Linked DNA regions of Homo sapiens: region 2 is linked to region 1. Evidence: fine-mapped expression QTL. Tissue or cell type: whole blood. Region 1 holds a variant in brackets; the other region holds the start of a gene. All regions are shown on one strand. Distances are from middle to middle.

The links. PIP is the estimated chance that this variant, and not a neighbour inherited with it, causes the effect.
Region 2: it holds the start of TEX101, and the variant in region 1 is fine-mapped to the expression of TEX101 in whole blood (TOPMed, PIP 0.97).

What each region holds. Positions count from the first base shown.
Region 1 is chr19:43,448,094-43,453,238 of GRCh38, reverse strand. No RefSeq gene overlaps it. Among named protein-coding and RNA genes, the nearest start is that of LYPD3, 15 kb to the left of the region's middle. The variant C/T (reference allele first, on the strand shown) is at 2,011.
Region 2 is chr19:43,412,161-43,417,305 of GRCh38, reverse strand. TEX101 (testis expressed 101) reads right to left here and starts at 2,416. Exons shown (of 6, transcript NM_001130011.3): 1 at 2,268-2,416; 2 at 1,323-1,425; 3 at 1,064-1,207; 4 at 751-933. The coding sequence starts at 1,386. RefSeq lists a silencer at 4,029-4,215.

The sequences.
Region 1 (5,145 bases):
CGTGCCTGGCCAGAAAATTTATTTTTAAAATTTATTTATTTTTCTTTTGAGATGGGTTCTTGCTTTGTCACCCAGGCTGGAGTGCAGTGGTGCGATCACGGCTCATGGTAACCTTGAACTCCTGGGCTCAAGAGATCCTCCTGTCTCAGGCTTCTGAGTAGATGGGACTACAGGTGTGCACACCGTGCCCAGGTAATTTTTAAAAGTTTTTTTTGAAGAGATGGAATCTCACTATGTTGCTCAGGCTGGTCTTGAACTCCTGGCCTCAAGCACTTCTCCCTCCTTGGCCTCTGAAAGTTCTGGGATTCCAGACGTAAGCCACTGCACCCAGCCAACCTTTGTTGTTTTGAGTCACTGAATTCTGGAGCTGTTTGTCACTGCAGCATAACTTAGCCAATCCTGACCGATACATTCCCTCATCTCCTTCCCTTGTTTTGCAATTGGAATCATTTACAAACTGGTGAAGTCCTCCTACTGACTATAACCCTGTTGTGACTCCCCAGCACTCGCAGGGTAAGATTCCAATGCCCTACCATGGCTTACAAGCCCACACAGGAACTGGTGACTGCTGCATGCTTGCCTTTAACCCCTCCCTACCCTCTGCTTCCTTTCACATTCCAATGACACTGAACTTTTCAGTTCAGAAAAGTTCAGTTCAGAAAAGTTTGAGCATCAAACTCTTCTGCTCACTCCCAGACCTTTGCAGTTGCTGTTCCTTCTGCCTGGAATGCTTTTCCATTGTCCTTCCGTCTCTACCTGGTGACACCTACTCTTTCTTTAAGACTTAGCTTGGATGTCCTCTCCATCAGGTATCTTTCCTGACCACCAGTCTGGGTCACATGCCTCATTTGGGGCTTCCCCCATTATTGTTTTGATCACTTGGGATTGTTGCTATCTGGATGTATTGGTCTGGTCTCACATTGCTATAAAGATTCTACCTGAGGCTGGGTAATTGATAAAGAAAAGAGGTTTTTATTTTTTTAATTTATTATTTTTTTTGAGACACAGTCTTGCTCTGTTGCCCAGGCTGGAGTGCAGTGGCACAATCTCGGCTCATTGAAACCTCCGCCTCCCGGATTCAAGTGATTCTCCTGCCTCAGCCTCCTGAGTAGCTGGGATTACAGGCGTGTGCCACCATGCCCAGCTAATTTCTGTATTTTTTAGTAGAGACAGGGTTTCACCATGTTGGTCAGGCTGATCTTGAACTCCTGACCTCATGATCTGCCTGGCTCGGCCTCCCAAAATGCTGGGATTACAGACATGAGCCATCATGCCTGGCCTTTATTTATTATTATTTTTTTTAATATAAGGTCTTACTCTGTTGTCCAGGCTAGAGTGCAGTAGAGAGAAGTTGGCTCAGTGTAACCTCCACCTCCCGGGTTCAAGCAATTCTCCTGCCTCAGCCTCCCAAGTAGCTGAGGTTACAGGTGTCCGCCACCATACCTGGCTAATTTTTGCATTTTCAGGAGAGATGGGGTTTCACCATGTTGGCCAGGATGGTCTTGAACTCCTGACCTCAGATGATCTGCCTGCTTTGGCCTCCCAAAGTGCTGGGAGTACAGGTTTGAGCCACTGCGCCTGGACTGAAAAGAGGTTTAATTGACTCACAATTCTGCATGGCTGAGGAGGACTCAGGAAACTTACAATTATGGCAGAAGGTCAATGGGAAGTAAGGCATGTCTTACATGGCGGCAGCAGAGAAAGAGAGAGAGAGACAGAGAGAGAGAGAGAGAGAGCAAAGGAAATTGCCACTTTTTTTTTTTTTTTTTTTTTTTTTTGAGACAGAGTCTCGCTCTGTCGCCCAGGCTGGAGTGCAGTGGCGGGATCTCGGCTCACTGCAAGCTCCGCCTCCCGGATTCACGCCATTCTCCTGCCTCAGCCTCCCAAGTAGCTGGGACTACAGGCGCCCGCCACTACGCCCGGCTAATTTTTTGTATTTTTAGTAGAGACGGGGTTTCACCGTTTTAGCCGGGATGGTCTCGATCTCCTGACCTCGTGATCCGCCCGCCT[C/T]GGCCTCCCAAAGTGCTGGGATTACAGGCGTGAGCCACCGCGCCCGGCCGGAAATTGCCACTTTTAAACCAACAGATCTCGTGAAACCTCCCTCATCAGCACAAAAACAGCATGTGAGAAACCGTCCCCATGATCCAATCACCTCCCACCAGGTCATTCCCTCACACATGGGGATTACAATTTGAGATGAGATTTGGGTGGGGACATGGAGCCAAACCATAACACTGGAAGATGTGTCTGTCTCTGCCCCTGGACTTTGAGTCTCCTGAGGGAAGGGCTGGGGCTATGTTGTCAGTGCCACACACACATCTCAGGGCTGGGCACAGAGGAGGGTTTCAATTATAGTTTGTCGAATGAATAGTGCATGACTTCAGATGTTAGGCAGATCTGTTCATCACAGGATTTCTGAGAAGCAAGGGTGCTGTCTCTTTCTCTTCTCTGCACTTTTTTCCTGACAGGCTTTCTGGAGAACTGAGACTTGAGAGCTGGCACAGTTTGTTCCTGGAGGCCAGCTCTATGCTGCAGGGAAGCGGTTGTGGTTTCTGTGGAAAGTCCCAGAGCAATTCATTTCTTCTTGGTTCCTCCAACCAATCAATCCAATCCAAATTCCTTTGCTGACTCAACACTTTCCCAAATTTTTATTTTTACTTTTGCACAGATGTTTAAAATGAATTATTTAAAACATAGAGAAGTTAAAATAATCTTACAGTGAACACTCATATATACCCATCACCTAGATTCTATTTGTATGATTATTATTATTATTTTTGAGACAGAGTCTCACTTTGTCACCCAGGCTGGAGTGCAGTGGTGTGATCTGGGCTCACTGCAACCTTCACCTCCCAGGTTCAAGCGATTCTCCTGCCTCAGCCTCCTGAGTAGCTGGGATTACAGGTGCCCACCACCACGCCTGGCTAATTTTTGTATTTTTAGTAGAGATGGGGTTTCACCATGTTGGGCAGGCTGGTCTTGAACTCCTGGCCTCAAGTGATTCATCCGCCTTGGCCTCCCAAAATGCTGGGATTACAGGGGTGAGCCACCGTGCCCAGCTCTATTTTTATTTTATCTTTGGACACAGGGTCTCACTCCCATAGCCCAGCCTGGAGTGTAGTGGTGCAATCTTGGCTCACTTCAGCCTCGACTTCTGTGGCTCAGGTGATCCTCCCACCTCAGCCTCCTGAGTAGTTGGGACTAGGGGCATGTGCCACCACGCCTGGCTAATTTTTTTTTTGTAGAGATAGATAGGATTTCGCCCTGTTGCCCAGGCTGGTCTCGAACTCCTGTACTCAAGCCATCTGCCTGCCTTGGCCTCCCAAAGTGCTGGGATTACAGGCATGAGCCACCGTGCCTGGCCCCATCACCTAGATTCTAAATTAATTAACATCTTACTCAACTTGCTTTATCAAGTATTTACCCACCTTTCCATCCATCTATCCATCACTCCTTCTTGCCTTTTCAATGCATTTCAAAGTAAGTTGAAAAGCATATTTATTTAGTTTCTCCTCTTCAGGTAAAATTTACATATGCTGAAATGCACAAAACTTAAGCACATTGTTAGAGGAATTCTGACAAATGTGCAGGCCCGTGCCGCCAAAATCCTTATCTTGAATCAGAACATCACCATCACTCCAGAAGGTTGTCTCCCATCCCTTCCCAGTCAGTCCCTGGGTTTCAGAGAGGAATGTAGTGGGTGGGGTGGGAAGAGGAGGCAGAGGTTAGGCCTAAACCTTGAAGGGCCTCATAGGCCACAATAAGAAATACAATAACAATACAAATAGAACACTATGCTGGATGTTTTTCTTTTTTCTTTTCTTCCCTTTTTTTTTTGAGACAGGGTCTCACTCTGTTGCCCAGGCTGTAGTGCAGTGGTACAATCATAGCTCACTGCAGCCTCAAACTCCTAGGCTCAAGCCATCCTCCCTCCTCAGCCTTGGAAATAACTGGAATTACAGGTGCATGCCACCATGCCAGGCTAATTAAAAAAAAATTTTTTTTTTGTAGAGATGAGTCTCATTATGTTGTCCAGGCTGGTCTCGAACTCTTGGCCTCAAGTGATCTTCACACCTCAGCTTCCCAAAGTGCTGGAATTACAGGTGTGAGCTGCTGTGCCCGGACTATGCTGGATATTTTTTGTTTGCCTCTTCAGGTCCACTCTCCACCTCTCCCCGCCATACTCCTGGGAGTCTGACCATACCTTGGGATCAGCATGAACCACAATGAGCTTTCTGAACCTCTAGCTTTCTGCATCGGTTTGCCCAATGGGGAGACACTGGCAAGAAACTGGAGGGTGGGTATTTATTTCCCCAACTCCCTTCTTGATGTACGGTTGCCTTGGGCTGCCTGTATCTTTCTACCCACTGCCTCCACCCTTGTAAATAGACTCCTTTTTTTTTTTTTTTTTTTTTTTTTTTTTAGACAACAGTCTCTCTCTATCACCCAGGCTGGAGTGCTGTCAGTGGCGCCATCTCGGCTCACTGCAACCTCCGCCTCCTGGGTTCAAGTAATTCTCCTACTTCAGCCTCCTGAGTAGCTGGGATTACAGGCGGGCGTCACCACGCCTGGCTAATTATTGTATTGTTAGTAGAGATGGGGTTTCACAATGTCGGCCAAGCTAGTCTCAAACTCTTCACTCAGATGATCCGCCAGCTTTGGCCTCCCAAAATGCTGGGATTACAGGCGTGAGCCAGTGTGCTCAGCCCGATACTTACTTTTAATTACATGTAGATTAAGGCGCGGTTTATGCAGAAATTTCTAGGGAAGGGGTAATGACTTTTGGCTTGTGGGGTTATTGGCATGGAAAGGGGCAGTAACTCCCAGGTGTTGCCATGGCAACGGTAAACTGACGTGGCATACTGGTGGGCGTGTATTATGGGAAACTGCTTAGCTAGTCCTCAATTTGGTCCCATACCCAAGTCCCACCTCTGGAGGTGAGTCCAGCCTCCCACCTCAAAAACAGTGGCATTGGCCAGGCGCGGTGGCTCACGCCTGTAATCCCAGCACTTTGGGAGGCCAAGGCAGGCAGATCTCTTGAAGTCAGGAGTTTGAGACCAGCCTGGCCAACATGGTGAAAACCCATCTCTACTAAAAATACAAAAAAAATTAGTCAGGCCTGGTGGCGGGCCTGACTAATCCCAG
Region 2 (5,145 bases), 36 kb after region 1:
TTTTTTATGGCCAGAATCCATTTTGATTGGCCAGTGCCATCTACATTGTTAAGCATTTTGAGTATTAGCCCCAGTTAGCACACAGTAAATGAGAGAGGGAAGAGAGGGAAATGAAGCTGAAAAGACAGGAAGGGCCAAGTTACTACAGGCCTTGTAAATTGGGGAACTGGGCCGTTCTCGTGCAGCAGTGGGAAACCAATACTTGTTAGACTGATAATACCACCCTGTTCGGAAACCTACACTGATGTCTTATTGCTTTTTTTTTTTTTTTTTTTGATGGAGTCTTGCTCTCTGTCCCAGGCTGAAGTGCAGTGGTGTGATATTGGCTCACTGCAACCTCTGCCTCCTGGGTTCAAGCAATTCTCCTGCCTCAGCTTCCCGAGTATCTGGGATTACAGGTGTGCGCCACCAGGCTAAGCTAATTTTTGTATTTTTAGTAGAGACAGGTTTTCACCATGTTGGCCAAGCTGGTCCCAAACCCCTGACCTCAGGCGATCCACCTCACCCAGCCTGTCTTATTGCTTAATAAACACAAAACCCAGTTTACACTCCAGGCTTCACTGGTATCTCGCTGCTCTGAGCAGTGTTTAGATCCCAATGAACAATTCAGAAACATAAAATTACTTGAACTGTGAGGTACTTTGGGGTATGGACCACTTAGGCTAAGCCAAGTCAGAATGCAAAGGGAGGCCATACACAAGCTCTTTATGGAGTTTCTCTTAGTACCTATCTCCCCCACTTCCAGGGTACCTGTGGTCTCACTGAACTCCCAAAACTGAGACAGGCTGTCTTTGTCATTACAGAAGGAATCCTCACAGTAGTTACTGTAGGAGGTCACGATCAGGCCGGGAGGTGAAGAGTGCTGGACAATTGTTATGGCCTCCTCCCCTTCCGGGATGCAGCCCTTCGTGGCCAAAATGGCTGTCTCAGTCCCTGTTATGAGACAGGAAGGAGGGGAAATGGATGGTGGCCGTCACAATTGGCCTGGACGAAGGGAACAAGCATTGGCATGGAGATAATCAACCTCCCTCCTACCCAGCCCAAATGCCCCATCTCATTTCACCTGCTTTAATTATTAGTATGGTTTCCTGGCAAAGTGCCCCTTTGTCACAAGTCTCCACTTCCTCTGTGGTCCAGTTAAACATATTGGCTGGATCTGCTTCCACAGTCATGGACAGACCCTTTTGACAATACAGCTCTAGGCCCGCTGAGGAGAAAACAAGAAAAGGATAAGCACTTCTCCATGGGCCAAGGCGGCTCCCTTTTCATCATCAGTCCACCTTCTGTGACACACGGCTCTCCCCTATGTCCCCCATACGCACAGGTCAGGAGGGAGGCTCCTAGGACCAGGAGGATCAGCAAATGCTGGATACGAGGGGTTCCCATGGCTTCTTCTGGAGAGGTCTGGGAGGAGCTGGTCTGGATCTGTGAATTTGATGGAGAGAAGGCAATTAACTTTTCAGCCAGAGTGCATGAGATCAAATCTAGGTCCTGGCAAGTACTGACTTCAGGGTGGGGTGTTTTAATCTGCATTTTTTTTTTTTTTGAGACGGAGTCTTGCACTGTCGCCCAGGCTGGAGTGCAGTGGCGCAATCTCGGCTCACTGCCTCTGCCTATCAGGTTCAAGCAATTCTCCTGCCTCAGCCTCCCGAGTAGCCGGGATTACAGGTGCCCGCCACCACACCCAGTGAATTTTTTGTATTTTTAGTAGAGATGACGTTTCACCATGTTGGTCAGGCTGGTCTCGAACTCCTGATCTCAGGTGATCTGCCCGCCTCGTCCCCCCATAGTGCTGGGATTCCAGGAGTGAGCCCTGATGCCCGGCCTCACAGTGGGGTTTATGGTGTATATGACCACGACTTCTAAAGTCGTTCTGTCCCTAACCGGCTTGTGAGCTGGAGCGAGTTCACAGGTTTATCACGCCCCAGTTTTTCATGGTTTTAATTCTCAGGCCCGGCCACCCAGTGCCCTCCAACTTCAGGATCAGGAGTGTGGCCCTGAAGGCCGCTTCTCCCTCAGTCTCAGGGGTCCCTTACATTCTCTCAGGGACCCAGAATCTCGGCCCCCAGCCCCAGCCCCAGCCTCATCAGAACCCGGGATTCTGAGAGCCCAGCCCCGTCCTATGTAGGGATCGAGGAGTCTGGGTTCCAACCACCTTTTCCTGCGGGACACACCATTCTGGTCCCCTCCCTCTCAGGCCCGGGAGCCCAGGCCCCCAACCCTCGTTCCCCTCAGAGCCAGGATCTGGGTCCCCAGCCTTCTCTTTCCTCAGAATCCAGGAATCTGAGTCCCTAGCCTTCTTTTTCTCTTTAAAGAAGCAAAATTGCTGCCGGCTTCCAGGCAGACGCCTCACAAGAATCTCACGACGCCAAAGTTGAGGCCCGGAACGCCTTCTCCCCGGGCTTGGCATTCTCTTACGACGCAAGGCCGGGCCAGCCTGGCCACACAGCACTCGAAACCCCATTGGTGGATGCAAAAGCATCGGATAAGTTCATTGGATGAGCCTGGAGGAACGCGGCACCTCATTGGCCACAGAGAAGTCAATTCCTGGCAATCTCGGAGGGTGCGCATGCTCGGAAGGTGAGTGGCGGGCAAACCGGCCGGAAGATCCTGCCTGTTTTTGCAGCCAGAGGCACGCAATGGAGGGTGGGCAGTGCGTTGCCAGATGGCCTCGCCTGGCCCATTTCTCTTTTTGCACTCTGTTGTCTCTGCTTCTCCAGCCACACTAGGAGGTCAGACCCTTGGCCCTCACTCACGGAACTTATCTCCCTACCCAAATGGCCTCTCATGTTCCCAGCCTGGCCCCTGCCTCGGCACCCACCTTAGTGGCCCTAGCCTCTGGGAGTCAGCTTGGCCTCTTGAGTCTTCACTTGCAGTGGCCCCTGTGCAGCCCAGGCGTCTTCATCTGATTGCGCTATCGCACCAGCCTCCTCATGGTCTCCTGGAGGGTTGAATCTAGGAATGCCCCCCTCAGCATCACTTTGGGCACCCCGAATGCATGCATGAGCAGTAGCTATGATGGCACAGGCTGCTGTCAGATCGAACCCACGCGTCCGTGTCAGGACCATGAAGAAGACATGTCACTCGGATTTGTTGCTCATGGCTGGCAGTTCACTTTCACATCTATGTAACCTTCCCTTCCCTCCCCTCCCCTCCCTTCCCCTCCCCTTCCCTTCCCTTTTTGACAGACTTTTGCTCTTTTTGCCCAGGCTGGAGTGCAATGGCACAATCTTGGCTCCCTGCAACCTCCTCCTCCTGGGTTCAAGTGATTCTCCTACCACAGCCTCCCAGGTAGCTGGGATTACAGGCATAAGCTACCATGCCTGGCTAATTTTTTGTATTTTTTTTTTGGAGACAGAGCCTCTCTCTATCCCCCAGGCTGGAGTGCAGTGACGTGATCTCAGCTCACTGCAACCTCCCTCTCCCAGGTTCAAGCGATTCTCATGCCTCAGTCTCCCCTGAGCAGCTAGGATTACAGGCACCTGCCACCACACCTGGCTAATTTTTGTATTTTTAGTAGAGACGGGGTTTCGCCGTGTTGACCAGGCTGGTCTTGAACTCCTAACCTCAGGTGATCTGCCCACCTCGGCCTCCCAGAGTACTGGGATTACAGACGTGAGCCACCACCCCTGGCCTATGTAAGCTTTCCAGGTGTGACATGAAGTTGTAGCAGGATGAGCTGCAGACAAAACTCCTCAGATACTGGATTAAAGAAGGAAGAGGTTTATTTGGCCGGGAGCCTCAGCAGACTTGCGTCTTAAGAGCCGAGCTCCCTGAAAAATAAATTCTTGGCCTTTTTTTTTTTTTTTGGAGTCTCCCTCTGTTGCCCAGGCTGGAGTGCAGTGGTGCAATCTCGGCTCACTGCAAGCTCTGCCTCCCGACTTCATGCCATTCTCCTGCCTCCGCCTCCCGAGTAGCTGGGACTACAGTCACCCACCACCACACCCGGCTAATTTTTTTGTATTTTTAGTAGAGATGGGGTTTCACTGTGTTAGCCAGGATGGTCTCGATCTCCTGACCTCGTGATCCGCCCGCCCCCCAAAGTGCTGGGATTACAGGCATGAGCCACCACGCCTGGCCAATTCTTGGCCTTTTTAAAGGCTTACAACTTCGAGGGGTCCACATGAAAGGGTCGTGATAAATCGAGCAAGCGTGGGAAACGTGACTGGGGGCTACATGCATCAGGTAACAGAACAGAAAGTTTTGCAATGCTTTTTCATATAATGTCTGGAACTTACAGATAACACAAGTAGTTTAGGTCAGGGGTTGCTGTTATTATTATTACTTTTTTTAACTCCTAGGGCTGGGTGGTGGTGCCAAGGTTGACTGGCTATTTATCTTACTTCTGTTTCTTTCCAACTTTTTGCTTTCTCTCTTTCCTCCTGTCTTGTGAACTAGGCAAGGTCGGGGGAGGAGGGCAGCAGGAGTAGTAGTGGTCTCCTTCCTTAAAGTAAGGCAACGCTTTGTATACTTTCAGAATTGGTACTGATTCTGTAAGTTATAGTATAAATGAGTATTTATTTTTAATAGAGAAAATGCCACAATAAGAAAGGGATTGGTAAAGCTTCAATCCCTTTGTTATCTTTGAACTGTTATCTTTGAATGATCACATGTCAAAGGATCCAGGAAGAATGTGTGCCAGTTTTCAGCCCCCGTCTGTCCCCCGAGGGCTCGTGCTTGGGAAAGCAGTCACCTTGTTGAGTCACTCTCCAGGTGACTTGGTCGCAGAATCCCTCCATCTCACACCTAGAAGAGACCTTGGAAGCCTAAGCACCCTCCACCTCTATTCTTCACCCCATTTCTGCTTCAACAGCTCCAGGGACCTCCTCTTGCTCCGTGACATAGTTTGGATATTTGTCCCCCGCCCAAATCTCATGTTGAAATGTAATTCCCAGTGTTGGAGATGCGACCTGGTGGAAGGTGTTTGGGTTATGGGGGCAGATCCTTCATGACTTGGTGCTGTCCTTGCAATGATGAGTGAGTCCTTGCCAGATCTGGTTGTTTAAGTGTGTGGCACCTCCCCTTCTTACTCTCTCTCGCTCCCCTTCTCTGGCCTGCATCCTTTTGCCATAAGTAAAAGCTCTCTGAGGCCTCCCCAGAAGGAGATGCTGGCACCACGCTTCCTGTACAGCTGCAGAACCTTGA